Linked DNA regions of Homo sapiens: region 2 is linked to region 1. Evidence: fine-mapped expression QTL. Tissue or cell type: thyroid. Region 1 holds a variant in brackets; the other region holds the start of a gene. All regions are shown on one strand. Distances are from middle to middle.

Region 1 (8,536 bases):
CCCCATCACCCCAGCCCCTGACAATCATTCTACTCTCTGCTTCTATCAGTTTGACTATTTTAGATTCCACATATAGGTGAGATCATATAGTATTTATCTTTCTGTGTTTGGCTTTTTCACTTAAACATTATATCTTCTAGGTCCATTCATGTTTTCACAAATGGCATGATTTCCCTCGTTTCTCAGGCTGAATAATTCTAGTGTGGAGGAGAGTGGGTAGATTAATGTGGATGTGTGTATTAAATTTTCTTTATTCATTATCCATCGAAGGACACTTAGGGTAATTCCATATCTTGGTTACAGTGAATGATGCTTTAATCGACAGGAGGTGCAGACACATATTGAAGATCCTGGTTGGGTGCAGTGGCTCATGCCTGTAATCCTAGCACTTTGGGAGGCCAAGGTGGGCAGAACGCATGAGCCCAGGAGTTCCAGACCAGCCTAGGCAATATGACAAAATCCCATCTCTACAAGATATTCAAAAACTAGCTGGGCATGGTGGCACACGCGTATAGTCCCAACTACTTGGGAGGCTGAGGTGGGAGGATTGCTTGAGCTCATGAGGTCAAGGCTGCAGTGAGCCATGATTGCACCACTACACTCAAGCATGGGGACAGATGAGATCTTGTCTCAAAAAAAAAATTCTGATTTCAATTCCTTTGGATATATACCCAGAAGTGGAATTGCTGGATTATATCATAGTTCTATTTTTTAACATTTTGAAAAAAATCTTCATACAGTTTTTCATCATGGCTGTACTAATTTACATACAAACCAACAATGTATCAGGGTTCCCTTTTCTCCACATTCTCGCCAACACTTATCTTTTGACTGTTTGATAATAGTCATTCTAAAAGTTGTGGGGTGAAATGGTGATTTTGATTTGCATATCCCTGATGGTGATGTTTAGCACCTCATCATACAGCTTTTAGCCACTGCTATGTCTTCTTCTTTAGAGAAATATTTATTGGTCCTTTGTCTGTTTTTTTAATTGGGTTGGTTTATTGTTGTTTGTTTTTTGCTATTGAGTTGTAGGAGTTCCTGATATTGTGGATATTAACCTCTTATCAAATATATGGTTTGAAAACACATTCTTTCATTTTATAGATTGCCATTACACTCGGGATTGCTTTCTTTGCTGCAAGAAAGCTTTTAAATTTGATGTAATCTCGCTTGTTTATTTTTGCCTGTATTTTGGCATCATATCCAAAACATCAGTGCCAAGACCAAGGAGCCTTTTCCCTGTTTTCTTCTAGTTTTACGGTTTCTTGTCTTTGAGTGTTTAATCAACTTTTGAGTTGATTTCCTGGTACTTAAGATATATGGATTAAACAGTTTTTTCTTTTTTCATGTGCACATCTAGTTTGCCTAGCATAATTTATTGAAAAGACTGTTATTTCCCATTTTATATTCTTGGCATTTTTTTCAAAAATTAGTTGACTGTACATGCATGGGTTTATTTTGGGCTCTCTATTCTGTTCAATTGGCTCACGTCTTTTTATGCCAGCATGACACTTTTTTTCTTTCTTTCTTTCTTTTTTTTTTTTTTTTTTTTTGAGACAGGATCTCCTTCTGCCACCCAGGCTGGAGTGCAGTGGCATGATCATGGTTTACTGTAGTCTCAACATCTCAGGCTCAAGTGATCCTCCCACCTCAGCCTCACAAGTAGCTGGGACTGCAAGTAGCATGTGGCACTACACCTGGCTAATTTACAAAAAAAACTTTTTTTGTGGAGTTGTGGTCTCAGGTCTCCATATGTTGCTCAGGCTGATCTCAAACTCCTGGGCTCAAGTGATCCTTCCACCTCAGCCTCCCAAAGTATGATGCTTTTTTGATTACTGTATTTGTTATAGCTTTATAAAATTATTTGAAACCAGGAAATGTGATGACTTCTGCTTTGTTCTTTTTGTTCAAGATTGCTTTGGCTTTTCAGGTCTTCTGTGGTATCTTTTGAATTTAAGGCTTGCTTTTTCTGTTTCTGTGAAAAATATTATTGAAATTTTAATGGGATTGCATGGAATATGTATATTCCTTTGAGTAGTATGGACAGTTTAACAGAATTAGGTAGTCTAAGCCATGAACATGGTTTGAAAAGAAATAATGGTCACAACCTCAAATGAACACTTTTTTCCTGCCCAAGAACTCCAGTACATTTTCCTAGGGTATACACTTTCCTACTCACCAAAATGCCTGTTTCCCACTTCTCTCCAGCACTAATAACACTGCCTCATGCTTATCAAGGCAACAGCAGCAATCTGACAAGAACCTGGCATGATCCCATCACCAAATTTACCAGTCTTCCTGAATCTGGACCCATACATTTAACCTTGCCTCCACTTGTCCCCTGGATTCCAGCACCTCTCTTCTTCTCAACGATCTCTCTCTTACAGTTGTCCCTCCCTCTCTTCCATTAGAATTTTAACCCTCTGCTACATCAGCCATAGCAGCATAGTCACTTGGCCTGGTAACTACATTCTTTTATAAAAACCATGTCTTGATCACGTATCTCCCTCTAGGAACAGCCCCATTCCTCTGCTCCCATTATAAGCAAAAGTTTTTAATTGGATTGTCTCTACTCCTTCACCTCCCACTCAACTCCCTCAATTTGGCCTCATGGAAATCACCATTCCATGGAATCTATGTCTAGGTCAAGAGAGATTATCACCCTCTTCAACCTCCCAAAAGCATTGATAACAAGTGATGATTCTACATCTTCAGATGCGTTCTTCTCTTAATTTCTGTACTGCAATAGTGTTCTGCTTCCCCTCTCACCCACGGCTGCTGTCTGTCAGTCTTATTTGCTAACCTGTCTTCTGCTAGACCTCTAACTGTTGGAGTTTTCCAAATCCTAATATTATGACCCACTTTCTTTTGTATCTTTACCCTCTGCCTAAATCAGTTGTTCCTAACCTTTTCTGAGTCCCTTTGGAAGTCAAGTGAAGACTATGAACTCTTTCTCAGAATATTATGTTTAAATACACATAATAAAATTTGTAGAATTATACAGGAAACAAATTATATTAAAATTATAGTTATCAAATATTTCAAAATAAATGCATGATATTCATCTTTATTAACACAAAAATAAGACAATATATTTTAAATACGAGTAACTTTAAAATTGTACCTTATTTTAAAAAAATCAGGGTAAAGTTGTTTCTTAACTTGGATAAGAACATTACACTGTAGGGTTGTGATTGACAGGACAACATGCTTGTTACTGTTATGCAGGATATGTCGTCAATTTCAAATTTTTGTTTTAATGTTTGTAAGTATTGAAACTCTTGATTAGTTAAGATTGTGTGTGTGTGTGTGTGTGTGTGTGTGTATGTTTGTAGCAAAAAGGATATCTTACTTCATTTGGACTGCTATAACAAAATAGCATAGACTGGGTGGTTTATAAACAACAGAAATGTATTACTTACAAACAGGAAGTTGTTTCTTATAGTTCTGAAGGTTGGGAAATTGGTGATCAAGGTGCCAGCGATTTAGCGTCTGATGAATGCCATCTTCTGGTTCATAGAAAGAATCTTTTCACTGCATCCTCACATGGTGGAAGGCGTGAATGAGGTCCTTTGGGCCTATTTCATAAGGACACTAATCCCATTCATGTGGGCTTTCCATGACCCAATCACCTTTCAAGAGCCCCCACCTCCTAACAGCATAACTTTGGTATACCATCACTTTCAATACACAAATTTTGGGAGGATACAAACATTTAGATCATAGCATTAAATTAAAGTTTTTTAAGCTTATTTTACAAGGCCAAGATAAGCTTGCCTCAAAAGATATCAGAATCCTCAAAGGTTTTTTGAGTTATATCCTACCTATAATGTTTTTGAGCCTAAGATCAAAGATTATAGACTAGGACAATGCTTTCAATTACAGTTTATATCAGAAAGGAAAGGATTCTGGATTCATAGTTCAACTTTAATACAATTAAGATAGAAGTAACTTCCAAAAGGGTACTAAACAGTTTCCAGATATTTATAGATATCTCTTTCAAAGAAATTGATAGTTAGCTAAGGGTAAAACATTTCAAAGTTTGGCAAAGATGTCAGTTTCTATTTTGATATTCCAAATCAGCTACATATTCTGGAAAGATTATAATATTATTTAAAGTAGAAAGCCTAATGAACTTGAAAATTTTAGCCCATCCATGTGGCTAAAAATAATTGCCAGGTAAGCCAACCCATGCATCAATAGTTTTTTTCGAAGTATTCTGAATGCAGAATTTCTTTTCTTTAAGAAACATTAAGTAGTTGCCCTTAACTTAAACAAGCTCTTAAATCATACCCCTCACTCCCAAAATAAATTCATATATTTATGGTCAAATGATTTTCAAGAAAAATGCCAAGAACAAATGATGAGAAAGGACAGTGCCTTCCAAAAATAGGGCTGGGAAAACTGAATATCTACATGCAGGAGAATGCAATTAGGCCCTCATCTCATACCATAAACAAAAATCGACTAAAATAAAGATTTAAATGTAAGACTTGACACCATAAAACCACTAGAAAAAAAATATTGGGGAAAAGCTTGATGACATTGGTGTGGGCAATACTTCGTTTTGGATATAATTCTAAAAGCACAGGCAACAGGAAAAAAAAAGACAAATGGGCTAACATCAAACTAAAAAGCTTCTTCACAGCAAAGGAAACATCGACAGAGTGAAGAGACTATCTATTAAATTGAAGAATATATTTGCAAACTGTACATCTGATAAGGGGTTAATATCCAAAATATATATGAAACTCTTATAACTCAACAGTAAGAAAACAAACAACCAGATTAAAAATAACCAAGGACTTAAATGGACATTTCCCCAAAGAAGACATACAAATGGCCAACAGGTATACAGCAAGGTGTTCAACATTAAGCCAGTATAGGAAAGAAACTCGGTCCTGGCAGATAAGTGACATAGTAACCCAGATCTCCTCACC[C/T]CCACTCCATAGGCCTCAAATGTCTGGGCATTTCCCTGCCATACCTTCTTGCCTCCCTTAACAAGCTGACCAAAGTCAGGGAGTAGAAAGCTGCCTCTTCCTAACTTAGCTGACCTGGCTGAATCCCTAACCATAAAAAGAAGAAACTGACCATTTATATCTTTGAGTGATGTCTTCCAAGGTTACTGAAGTGAGACTCTGGCATTCCCAACAATAAACAGACCAGATCCAGCCAGCCGAAGACAAGATGAATGAATTCCAGCACTGATCTTGCATGAAGTTTCCCTCATTGTAATACTGCAAATCACATCCAGGGGTGGGGATTTAGCATGCTAATGACACATACGACACATGAAGAAATATGTTATCAAACTGCGCAGGTGCTAAAAGTTTCCTTCCTCTATATGCCTACACATAGCTCCTTTTCTCGCCTTAGCTCCCTTAAAATGACAAGAGCCAAGCCCTTTGGGGAGCCGGCACTGAGATCCATTTTCTGTACATTTCTGCTTGCTTTGTGTGACCTGGAAGCCTATTAAAACCTTGCCTAGACAGAGCAAGACTCCGTCTCAAAAAAAAAAAAAAAAAAAAAAAAAAAAAACCCTTGCCTAAGAAAAAATTCTGTTTGGTCTGGTGTTCATTTCTATTTACTTGAGAGTCAAGAATTCATAGTCTGAGCTTCAGTAAAAACATCACTAATCATCAGGGAAATGCAAATAAAACCACAATGACATATTACCTCACACTTGTGAGAATAGCTATAATAAAAAAGACAAAAGATAACAACTGTTAACAAGAATCTGGAGTAAAAGGAATCCTGGTGCACTGTTGGTAGCAATGTAATTCAGTACAGCCATTAAGGAAAATGGTATGGAAGTTCCTCAAAAAATTAAAAATGGAACTATCATATGATCTAGCTATCCTACTTCTGGGTATGCATTCAAAGGAATTGAAATAAGGATTTGTAAGATACATCTGAACTCCCATGTGCATTTCAGAATTATTCACAATAGCCAAGATATGGAATTAATGTAAGTATATATCAGCAAATGAATGAAGAAAATATGGTATGTATACACAAGGGAATACTATTCAGCCATTAAAAATAGTAAAAAAACTGTGATTTGCAACAACAGGGATGAACCTGGAGGACATTATGTTAAGTGAAATAAGCCAGGCACAGAAAGACAAATACTGCATAATCTCACTTATATGTGGAATGCAAAAAGGTCGAACTCATAGAAACAGAGAGTTGAATGTTGGTTACCAAAAGTTGGAGGTGAGGGGCTTTGGGAGATGTTGGTCAATCGATACAACATTTCAGTTAGACCAGAGGAATAGTTTCAAGGGATCTATTGTACAACATGGTGACTACAGTTCAAAACAACATATTGTGTGCTTGGAAATTGATAAGAAAGAAGATTTCAAGTGTTCTCATCACACACACACACACACAAACAAGTTATAAATAAATAACTCCTGCTCCCTTGGAAATCAGTGAACTTTTATTTGATAAAATGTACTTTATATTTTGGTTGCCCTATTTCTTGATCATTTTTAAAACATGCGACAATTCAGGGGGTACTTTAAATAATGTCGATGACTTCTATGATTGGTGACAAAGCTTCTCTCAGGATTGTAAAAACAGCCTTTATTCCTATTGTATGTCTGTGTAAAAAACAACAAGTAATGACAGCATGAGGTGATTTCATTGTCACTAAGGTAACAATACCAGATACATTGAAAAGCATTGTTGGAACCAATTAAGTAAAGAGTGTATAATGCTTTAATTTTTCCAATCAATGTTTTACTTGGAAAAAGAATATAAAACAAACCAGAACAATAAAACAATTTTTTACCTTTCCCAAAATGTCACCAGCCTGGTTAGTTTCCAAAAGAGACTCACAAAATCAGAATTTTGCCAGGTGCAATACTGAAGGGCAATGGTGAGAACATCAATCCTTTGATGGCTCATTTTAATGTTAAGATATTTCAATAATTCTACAATGTATGAACATACTGGACAAAAGCACCTCTTCTAGATTTCTCCTCTATTCCAGTGCAAAAACCAGCTTGAGCATCTCCAGTGCACATGGCTGAACTGAAGTCTCTCCAACTTTATAGGATCTTAAGTAAAAGAATTTTGCTGGCCGGGCGCGGTGGCTCAAGCTTGTAATCCCAGCACTTTGGGAGGCCAAGGCGGGCGGATCACGAGGTCAGGAGATGGAGACCATCCTGGCTAACATGGTGAAACCCCGTCTCTACTAAAAATACAAAAAAGAAAAGAAAAGAAAAAAAGAAAAAATTAGCCGGGCTTGGTGGCAGGCGCCTGTAGTCCCAGCTACTCGGGAGGCTGAGGCAGGAGAATGGCGTGAACCCGGGAGGCGGAGCTTGCAGTGAGCCGAGATCACGCCACTGCACTCCAGCCTGGGCGAAAGAGCAAGACTCCGTCTCAAAAAAAAAAAAAAAAGAATTTTGCTAAATGGAGAATTCATGTTTTCAAAGTGTCCTAGCTTTTACACCTTGAGATTTTTCTTGCATAACAAAAATCTACTATTGGCAAGACATTTTATAAATAAAGACACGGTGGCCTTGGTGTCCCACCACATTTATGCAAGCGAAGCTATAATCCAGTCTTCATCATCATCCTTCTCTTCAATATAAACTGAAATAGGTTCTGTAAAAAATATAAGAAATAATGATAAAATAAAACATTTGATTCAAGTGATATTTTGAAACTCTATATTACACGGCTTAAGGCTTTTAACAATTTGATAAATGTCATAGAAACAAGTAATTTGGCTGTCAATTAAGTAAATTATACGATATTCAAGAAATTTGTAAGACAAGTGAAATAAGACAAGTTTTTTTTCAATTTGTTCATTTTTTAGCACTTTTTATTACTTTAAACCTCAGGTAGACACAAGGTTTCAGCAGGAGTTCAGAAGCCATGCCCTTCTAGGAGTGTGAATAGTTTTGAGCGTGGAATTTCATGGCGTTTTGTGTCTATGCCTTACTACAAATAATCATTCTCATTTCTGATATTCACAGTTTTCACACAGTTATTTTTAAAATACACACTATATTCATGAAGGAGTAATCACAAATACCCATTTTACAACACACCAGGTACAAAAAAGGAATTTAAAGGAAATAAATAAGTAAATGAAAGAAACATTGACACTCACAGAAGGTACCAAACTTTGTAAAACCTTTGTTATGGCACAACATGTTAGCAATAATGAATGACTTTAACACACTTGAGCAATTGTCTCAACAGTCAAATATGTTTGACATTACCTGGGCTATGTAACTCCATGAAAATTTGCCAGTGGAGAGTTAATGATTTTTATTTGAACCATCCCATATTTGCACCCTTAAGCAATTAGAAACCTTTCATCTCCTTCCAGGCATTAAGCAACAAGGTTACATTGTTTGTTGTCTTCCTTGCTTTAGTATTTTCCGTCTAGCATTTATTAGTTTTGAACATGCTATGTATTTCACTAATTTTTGTATTTATTGTCTATCTCCACCAAGAATGTAAGCTCCACGAGGACAGAGATTTTTCTTAATCACTGCCATTTTCTTAATGCCTA
Region 2 (8,000 bases), 19 kb before region 1:
AACAAACCAACGAAGGAACAGAACACAAAACACCACATGTTCTCACTTGTAAGTGGGAGCTGAATAATGAGATCACATGGACACAGGGAGGGGAACAACACACACTGTGGTCTGTCAGAGAATGGGGTAGGGGGAGGGAGAGCATTAGGAAAAATTGCTAATGCATGCTGGGCTTAATACCTAGGTGATGGGTTGACGGGTGCAGCAAACCACCATGGCACACGTTTACCTATGTACCAAACCTGCACATCCTGCACATGTACCCCGGAACTTCAAAGAAAAAAAAAAATCGGTCGGAGCAGTGGCTCAGGCCTGTTAATCCCAGCACTTTGGGAGGCCGAGGCAGGTGGATCGCGAGGTCAGGAGTTCAAGACCAGCTTGGCCAAGATAGTAAAACTCCGTCTCTAATACAAAAATTAGCTGGGCTTGGTGGCGGGCACTTGTAATCCCAGCTACTCCAGAGGCTGGGGCAGAGAACTGCTTGAACCCGGGAGGCGGAAGTTGCAGTGAGCTGAGATCGCGCCACTGCACTCCAGCCTCAACGACAGAGACTCCGTCTCAAAAAACAAAACAAAAACAAAAAGAAACAAACAAAAATTAGCTGGGCATGGTGGCGGGCGCCTGTAATCCCAACTACTCGGGAGGCTGAGGCAGGAGAATCGCCTGAACCCGGAAGGCAGAGGTTGCAATGAGACGAGATCACACTACTACAGTCCAGCCTCCGCAATAGAGCAAGACTCAGACTCAAAAAAAAAAAAAAAAAAAAAAATCTTCAAATGGCACCTGATATCCTGCAGCTGTACATCCCAAACACAGAATCTAAGATTAACGCTGATGAAATGAGTACGGAACAAGGACAACTTTGTGAATTTTTTCTAAAGTTAAAGTATTCAATGGATTGTTTATTGTGAGATTTTGCTTCCTGCTTTTTTGGTGTTAAAATATCCTTTTGTTTATGAAAAGATAGATGAGTAAATGATAGTTTTTAAGAAACATCTCCACCTAGTAAACAGAAAAGTTGGCAGAACTACAGCAGCTGAGTTTTATTTTATATTGTAATGGCTCAATACAAAAATGTCAGGGAAACACTGAATGACCGGAAATCCAAGAAATCCAAAAGGCAAACAAGGCCCTCACTGATTTATTTCCTCTCACTTTCCCAGACGTTTTGCTCCAGCAATATAAGAGTGCAAGGATGTCCAGCATACAACCTACTAATTATTTCCCTTTCCTCATGCTTTCCCATGAATGGAATGACCTCAACAATTTCTTCTCTTCTTCATATACTCATTTTATTGAATACATCCTATGTGCCAAGCACTAGATATAGGGTAGTGAACAAAAGAAAAACATCACTGTTTTCAAGGAACTCATAGTCTAGTGGAGGAAACAGACAACAAATCAAGATAGAATTTAAAAGGCCGATAAGTACGTCTTATGGAGAATGCAATGACGAAGCCCAAAAGTGAAGGCAGGAAGGCTAGTCAGGAGGCTACTAGAGTTCAGGTAAGAGATAACTCTGATTTGGATTAGGGTGGAGGCCTAGAGATATCAAAATGTGGAGCTGACCGGACTTGCTACCAAGCAGACAGTGGCTAAAAGAAATAAACCCCAAATGACTCTGGCACAAGTGTCTCTTGGTACCAACCTGGGCTAGTCTAGTCGGCTAAAGGATAAGAGACCACACGGAGAAAAGTCAAGAGGAGACCATGTGAAAGAATCTTAAACAAGCTTATAGTCTGAGACCCTACCCCCACCCTCCAAACATATGAGGAAGTCCAGCCAAATGAGCAGAGCTTCCCAGCAGATCCATTACTGAACAAGGATGCATCAATGAGCCCAACTAGGACTAGAAGAACCACTCAGCTGACCCGTAGACTTGTGAGCAATAATAACTGCTTCTTGTTTTGAGACACTGAATTTTGGCTTCACTTTCTAATGCACTAACTAAACATGGTGATACCATCTACTGACATGGGGTGACTGGAAGAAACACGGTGGCAAAGAGGAAAAGGAAAAAAATAAAAAGAAAAATCAAGCTTATCCTCTCTCATCCTAGTCAACTCTTAACCTACCCTTCAAAGCTCAACTTAGATATTAACTCCTCCAAGACGCCTTCCCAGATCCCCAGACTAGTTTAGGAAAGATATTCAAGTACTACCATTGTATTTTGTACATATCCCTATCACTGCCTTCCCATATTGTTTTACAATTATCTGTTTACAATTTTCTTCCTAACTAGCTAATAGTCCTCTTTTGTTACGGAAGGTGTCTTGTTCATTTTGATATTATCAGGACGTAACACAAAACAGGTACTCGGTAAATATTTCTGAATTTAATAAATCAATTAGCATAAACTTATTTTATACTTTAATGTCTGTTATTATAATTAACTGTAGATCACTATTTCTCAAAGTGTGATCTCTGAAAACATGCATCAGAATCAGCAGGGGTGTGAATTTTAAAATGCAGATCTCTGGGCTCTATCATAACGAAAATGCCGTTAAGTTGTAAAAACAAGAGTAAGGATATTCTACCAGCTACAGATAAAGCAAGGAGTAGCAGTGTGGGAGTAAATCCACTTTTCCTCACTATCTTCTAGAGATGTTCTCTACCAGAGTTCTTAATGTGCCAGGAACTGAGTAATTAAAAATGCTATGACTGGAATGTAGTTTCTCTTCTAAGAAACGGCTCTCGGTCAGAGGAAACAGGAACTGGGGGTCCTCCAAGGAGGTGTGGTTTCTCAACGCACACGTTCACAAGCGATGCTCCAGGAGGAAGGAATGTTCTCAGCGTCCCCCGAAACAGAAGCCAGGCTGTGGACACACAGCAGCCAGAGCCCCAGGCACTACCCGCACGCCAGCCCTCAGACCTCAGACCTCAGAGGCTGGGCTGCTGACGGAGGGGGCCCAGGGTCCCGTTACCGAAGAGCGCGCGAAGGCGGCTCCCACCGGGTTCTGGGATGGGCATCATTCCCCAGAAGCAGCGGCCTCCGTGAGTCCACGCAAGCCGCCACGGTGGCTTCGCTTGCCAGTCAGAAAGAAAGAAATTGCGGGAAGGGTCAGGCCGGAGGCAGCCGAAAGGGGAAAGGAACGGAGTACGAAGGGCGCCGCCGCTTCCCACCTGCGTCAAGCTCCAGCTGGTAACAAGGCAGCGGCTCAAGAGAGAGCTTGTAACCCTCGAAGCGGGGATCCAACAGAGGTCTCTTCACCCGTAGGGAGCAATTAGCCGCCACCTCCATCGCTTTCCAGGGCCGCAGCGTGAGAATTAATAAAGCCCTTGTTGAAAGGTCCGCGCTTCACGCCTCGCACAGAGACTGGGAAGCGGCGTGGTTCCCATCCCAGAAAACACTGCGGTGCGAACTGCCTTCTGGGAAATGTAGTGTCCGTGAAAAAGTTGAGACTGTTGCATGCTGGGCTATGTAGTTCTCCTGGTACTTAACGCGCGCGCGACGGCAAGGTCTGAACTCTGTTACCCAGAGGCCCTAGCAACCAGGAGGCGGCCCGCGCTGGTTAAATTCTCACATTATAGGCAGGGTGGCGAGACCCCGCCCCGGAAATGCGTGTTCTAGCTTTCTGTGTGCTTAGGTGCCCGAGCTACTGAGGGTCTAAGTCCGGGCAGCCGAAGAGTGTGGTAGGTAACGGTCCTCAGCGCAAGGGTCATTTCGTCGCTGGGAAGGGACGGCCCTCGCCCGCGGTGATGGTGGTGAGCTATGCCCGTGGTCCTCAGGGCCGGGACCCGGGCCCAGCCCAGGCTCCTTTCGATGTACTGTCTTTCGTTAGCGTCCCCGACCCGCGCTCGCGGGCCTGTAGGGCTCTCCGACAGGGCGTGCTACCGGAGTTGGCCTGAAACCAGTCCTCGCTTTGTTTTCTGGCTCCTCCTCTCCCGCCTCTCCCGCTGTCTCCGCCCTGTTCTATTTTCCCTAAGAATGTCTGAACTGGGAGGGATACCCTAGCGCCCTTGTTTTACCAGTGAGAAAACTGAGGCCTTTAAGAATTAAGTGACTTGTCCAAGGTCACTATCCGTATTTTAGGAGCCAAGACGAGATCAAGTTCAATATTCCAGGAGTGGTACTGACTAGACCTTGTAGTTATTTTGAAAATGTTAGCCTCCAATTACAAAAGCAAGCATTTCCTAGTTCTCACTCAACTTCTCCTTTTCCCTGTTCCTCTCAAAAAAGAAAAAAAAAATCAACTCTGGTAACTCATTGCCAGTCTGAATTTTCAATAGGCCAGATGGAAGACAACAAAAGTAATCTCAAGTTAGTGACAGATTAGGTGGGAAAACGTTAGTTTACGCCAAGTTTTATTTAATTTAAACTTTTAAGTGGCTTTAACGCTTTCAAAACCTAACTTTCCTCTTCTTTCAACATCATTTTGGTTTGGGTTGTCTGTTTTTACTGACAATTGAGGACTTTGTAAGTTAGGAATTAGTTTGAGATTTGTTTTCTTCTTATCCCACCAGCAGTGTGTGTGTAAACACACACATCCACACACTTAGGTTTAGCAGTTGTAATTGTGGGTTCATCCTAGTGAAGAGTAAAGCAAAACACTTAGAGCCTTATCTAGTAATTTTATTTTTTTTGATTAATTAATTTTTTTTTTTTTTTTTGAGACAGAGTCTTGCCCTGTCACCCAGGCTGGAGTGCAGCAGCGCAATGTCGGCTCACTGCAACCTCTGTCTCCTGGGTTCAAGCGATTCTCCTGCCTCAGCCTCCTGAGTAGCTGGGATTACAGACACCTGCCACCAAGCCCAGCTTATTTTTCTATTTTTAGTAGAGACGGGGTTTCACCATCTTGGTCAGGCTGGTCTTGAACTCCTGACCTCGTGATCCACCTGCCTGGGCCTCCCAAAGTGCTGGGATTACAGGTGTGACCCACTGTGCCCGGCCTGGTAATTTTATTTTTTTACTAATAGTATTTAATCTTTTTTTGATGTTTAGTATGTATGACTTCTCCCAATTTTTGGATGCAGTCTCTGCAGAAGTGATCGGCAGTTATGTTCAGTTTTGGAGCTCCTAGGGTCAAAGTACTTGAGTTCAAATTTTGCCTTTCCACTTTCTATCTCTGTGCCTCAGTTTCCTCATCAGTAAAATACAGATTATTTTATTAATATAAATATGTAACAATACGTTCTGGGAATTAAATGTGATGTTTAAAAAAAAGCAAACCCACACTGCATTAGCCCAGTGCCAAGCACATAAGTGTTTAATAAAGAGTAATGATATTATTAACACACTTGAAATGTATCACCCCTTCAGTTAATAGAATGGTAAACATGTTAGGATGCCTGCCTAGAGGATTTAGCAGAAAATGCTTTGTAAATGTTCTATATCTGAAAGTACATGTTGATGTCCAGGTTAGCAAGATGAACAAAGATGCGCAGATGAGAGCAGCGATTAACCAAAAGTTGATAGAAACTGGAGAAAGAGAACGGTAAGTAATAGATTGTGTTAATAAATTACATTTCACCGCCTTTAATAGTTAGCTTGTAAGAATCTAAACAAGAAATGAAACATGTCACTGGAAAGAATTACAATTGAGATTATAAAAGTTTCTATTCCGAACATCTGGAAAAAATAATTTAGGTTTGTTAAGTATTGCAGGACTTGGAGGGAAGTGGTGATGTAGAAAGATGAGCAAGATATGGCTCTTAAAGAGTAATTTGATGGAGAAGAAAAAGTACATACCTGAATTACAACTGGAGACATAATGTTACCTGGGTTTTAACAGGGAGACAATGTTGTGGAACCAGCTTCATTTACCAAGCTCTCAACCTTGGAGCAGCAAGTGCTGTTTCCACTCTCTAAAACATTCTTCCTTCTCTTCCTTTTTAGCTAATTCTAGCTCAACTATCAGGTCTAATTTATATATTGTCTCTTCAAGGAATGTTTTTAAGTCCCAAATACCTTGTTCCATCATAGCATTTAATCAACATTGTGTTCTAACAATCTACTTGGCTAGTTTGTATCCTCCAGTATAATCTAAGTTCTTTAACACCAAAAACAACATTGTATACCCAGCATCTAATGCTTTGTTTGGTTCATAATTGGCCACGTAAATATTTGCAGAATCAACAGGTTTAGAAGTACAAAGAAGGGGCTGAGGAATCAAGAAAGGCTCCCAGAGGCAGGGTTATAAAGTGAGTAAGACAAATATGTATAAGGAAGAGGCAAATATGTATAAGGAAGAGGGGGAATCTTTCAACTCAACCCGGGCATTCAGGTGATCATGTAAGATCTCACACAATAAGAAAAAGAGGTGCATCTGTTGCTGACTTTATTTTTGGATGATGGGAGTCATTTAAAGTTTTAAGAAAGGAAATGACTAGATCACATTTACACTTTAGGAATCTTACTCTGTTGGTGTGGAGCTTGGACTTGAAGGGGACAAGATAGATGGCAGAAAAATGAGGTAGAAGATTATATAGGGTTGAAAATGGAAAACTCCAAAAATTGGAAGGAGACCTTAGAATTTTAATAAAATGTAGAAACAGCAACCCTCAAAATGAGGAAGGAGGCATCGATAACTGCCTTGGGTAGCTTTAGAGGATAGTACTGCTGGTAAGGAGTACGGATTGTATGTTGTTTTTTTTTTTTGTTGTTTGTTTTTGATTCATGCAGCTTCAAGTTACTGAGTTTCTATCATATGCCATGCCCTGTTAAGGTGTTGGAGGTAACAGTAGTAGACAAAAATGGAGACTTTGTTTTCACAGAGCTTGCATTCTAATGGGAGGAGACAGATAAAACTGTGTAATAATGTCAGATGGTGATGAGCACTAGAGGAACAATAAAGCAGAAAATAAAGAGGTGTAATATTTTAGATAGAAAAAACAAAGAAGAAATCAGAAGGAGGCCGTGCATAGTGGCTCACGCCTGTAATCCCAGCACTTTGGGAGGCTGAGGCTGGCAGATCACAAGGTCAGGAGATTGAGACTATCCTGGCTAACATGGTGAAACCCCATCTCTACTGAAAATACAAAAATTAGCCATGCATGGTGATGGGCTGTAGTCCCAGCTACTCAGGAGGCTGAGGCAGGTGAATCGCTTGAACTCGGGAGGCGGAGGTTGCGGTGAGCTGAGATCGCGCCACTTCACTCCAGCCTGGGTGATAAGAGTGAAACTCCGTCTCAAAAAAAAAAAAATCAGAAGGATATGAGGGTGAGCAGGGACTCTTTAAGTTCCTGAGATAGGAGCTTGCCTTTCATTTTTGAGGAGCACAGGGATGCTAGGGAGACTGAGTAAATTGGGTGAGGGAGAGTGGAGATTAAGTCAGTGGCATAGCTGGGGAGAAGGCAGATCATGAAGGATCATGTAGGCTGTAATAAAGTCTTGGAGTTTTATTCTGAGTAAATTGGGAAGGCACTGGAGGTTTTTGAGCAGCAGGAGAAGAACTAAGTGTACAAGGGAAGAAGCAGGGAGACAACCTAGAATGCTATGGTAATATTCTAGAGAAGAGATGATGGCTTGAACTAGAGTAGTAATGGCGGAGATAGTGAGAAAGGTGAATTCTAGGTATATGTTTTAAATTGAACCCAATAGGATTTGCTCATAAATTGGATGTGTAGTGTTAACAAGGCAGCTGAGTGGAAGGATACTACAGAGATTCCTAGTCTGAGGAACCAGAAGAATGGAATTGCCATTCTCAGAAGAAGAACAAACAGGATGAATTGGTAGAAAATCAAAAGTTGGATTTTGGCCCTATTAAGATTGAAAGACCTAATTAAATATTAAGATGAGAATGTCACATAGTGGATGTCTAGGGATAGTGAAAGTGGTTTGCAGGGAAAGAGAATTTGTTTGGGATGTGACATTTTTAACCTGAGAAGTTAAATGATTTAGGTTGAGGATTGAAGATTTGTAAAAGTGGATATGGCAAAAGGATAAGAAAATATTTTATTGCACCTGTGATGCCATTAGTTGCATATACACTGCCACTTTTTTGCCATCGAGAGAAAGAAAACACTGGGGGCATGCCAATTACTGAATCGTTAAAATGTGG

Which allele goes with the higher level. Positions count from the first base shown, and alleles are read on the strand shown. Sizes are in standard deviations (SD) of each study's normalised expression.
As copies of C replace T in region 1, the expression in thyroid of the gene that starts at base 3,318 in region 2 goes down (small effect, 0.35 SD a copy in GTEx).

The links. PIP is the estimated chance that this variant, and not a neighbour inherited with it, causes the effect.
Region 2: it holds the start of NUDCD1, and the variant in region 1 is fine-mapped to the expression of NUDCD1 in thyroid (GTEx, PIP 0.96).

Annotation. Positions count from the first base shown.
Region 1 is chr8:109,349,804-109,358,339 of GRCh38, forward strand. No RefSeq gene overlaps it. Among named protein-coding and RNA genes, the nearest start is that of PKHD1L1, 8.4 kb to the right of the region's middle. The variant C/T (reference allele first, on the strand shown) is at 4,944.
Region 2 is chr8:109,330,770-109,338,769 of GRCh38, forward strand. It overlaps NUDCD1 (NudC domain containing 1), which reads right to left and starts at 3,318. Exons shown (of 10, transcript NM_032869.4): 1 at 3,124-3,318. The coding sequence starts at 3,241. ENY2 (ENY2 transcription and export complex 2 subunit) reads left to right here and starts at 3,578. Exons shown (of 5, transcript NM_020189.6): 1 at 3,578-3,705; 2 at 5,359-5,435. The coding sequence starts at 3,700. RefSeq lists enhancers at 3,010-3,059, 3,190-3,239, 3,422-4,344, 3,610-3,859.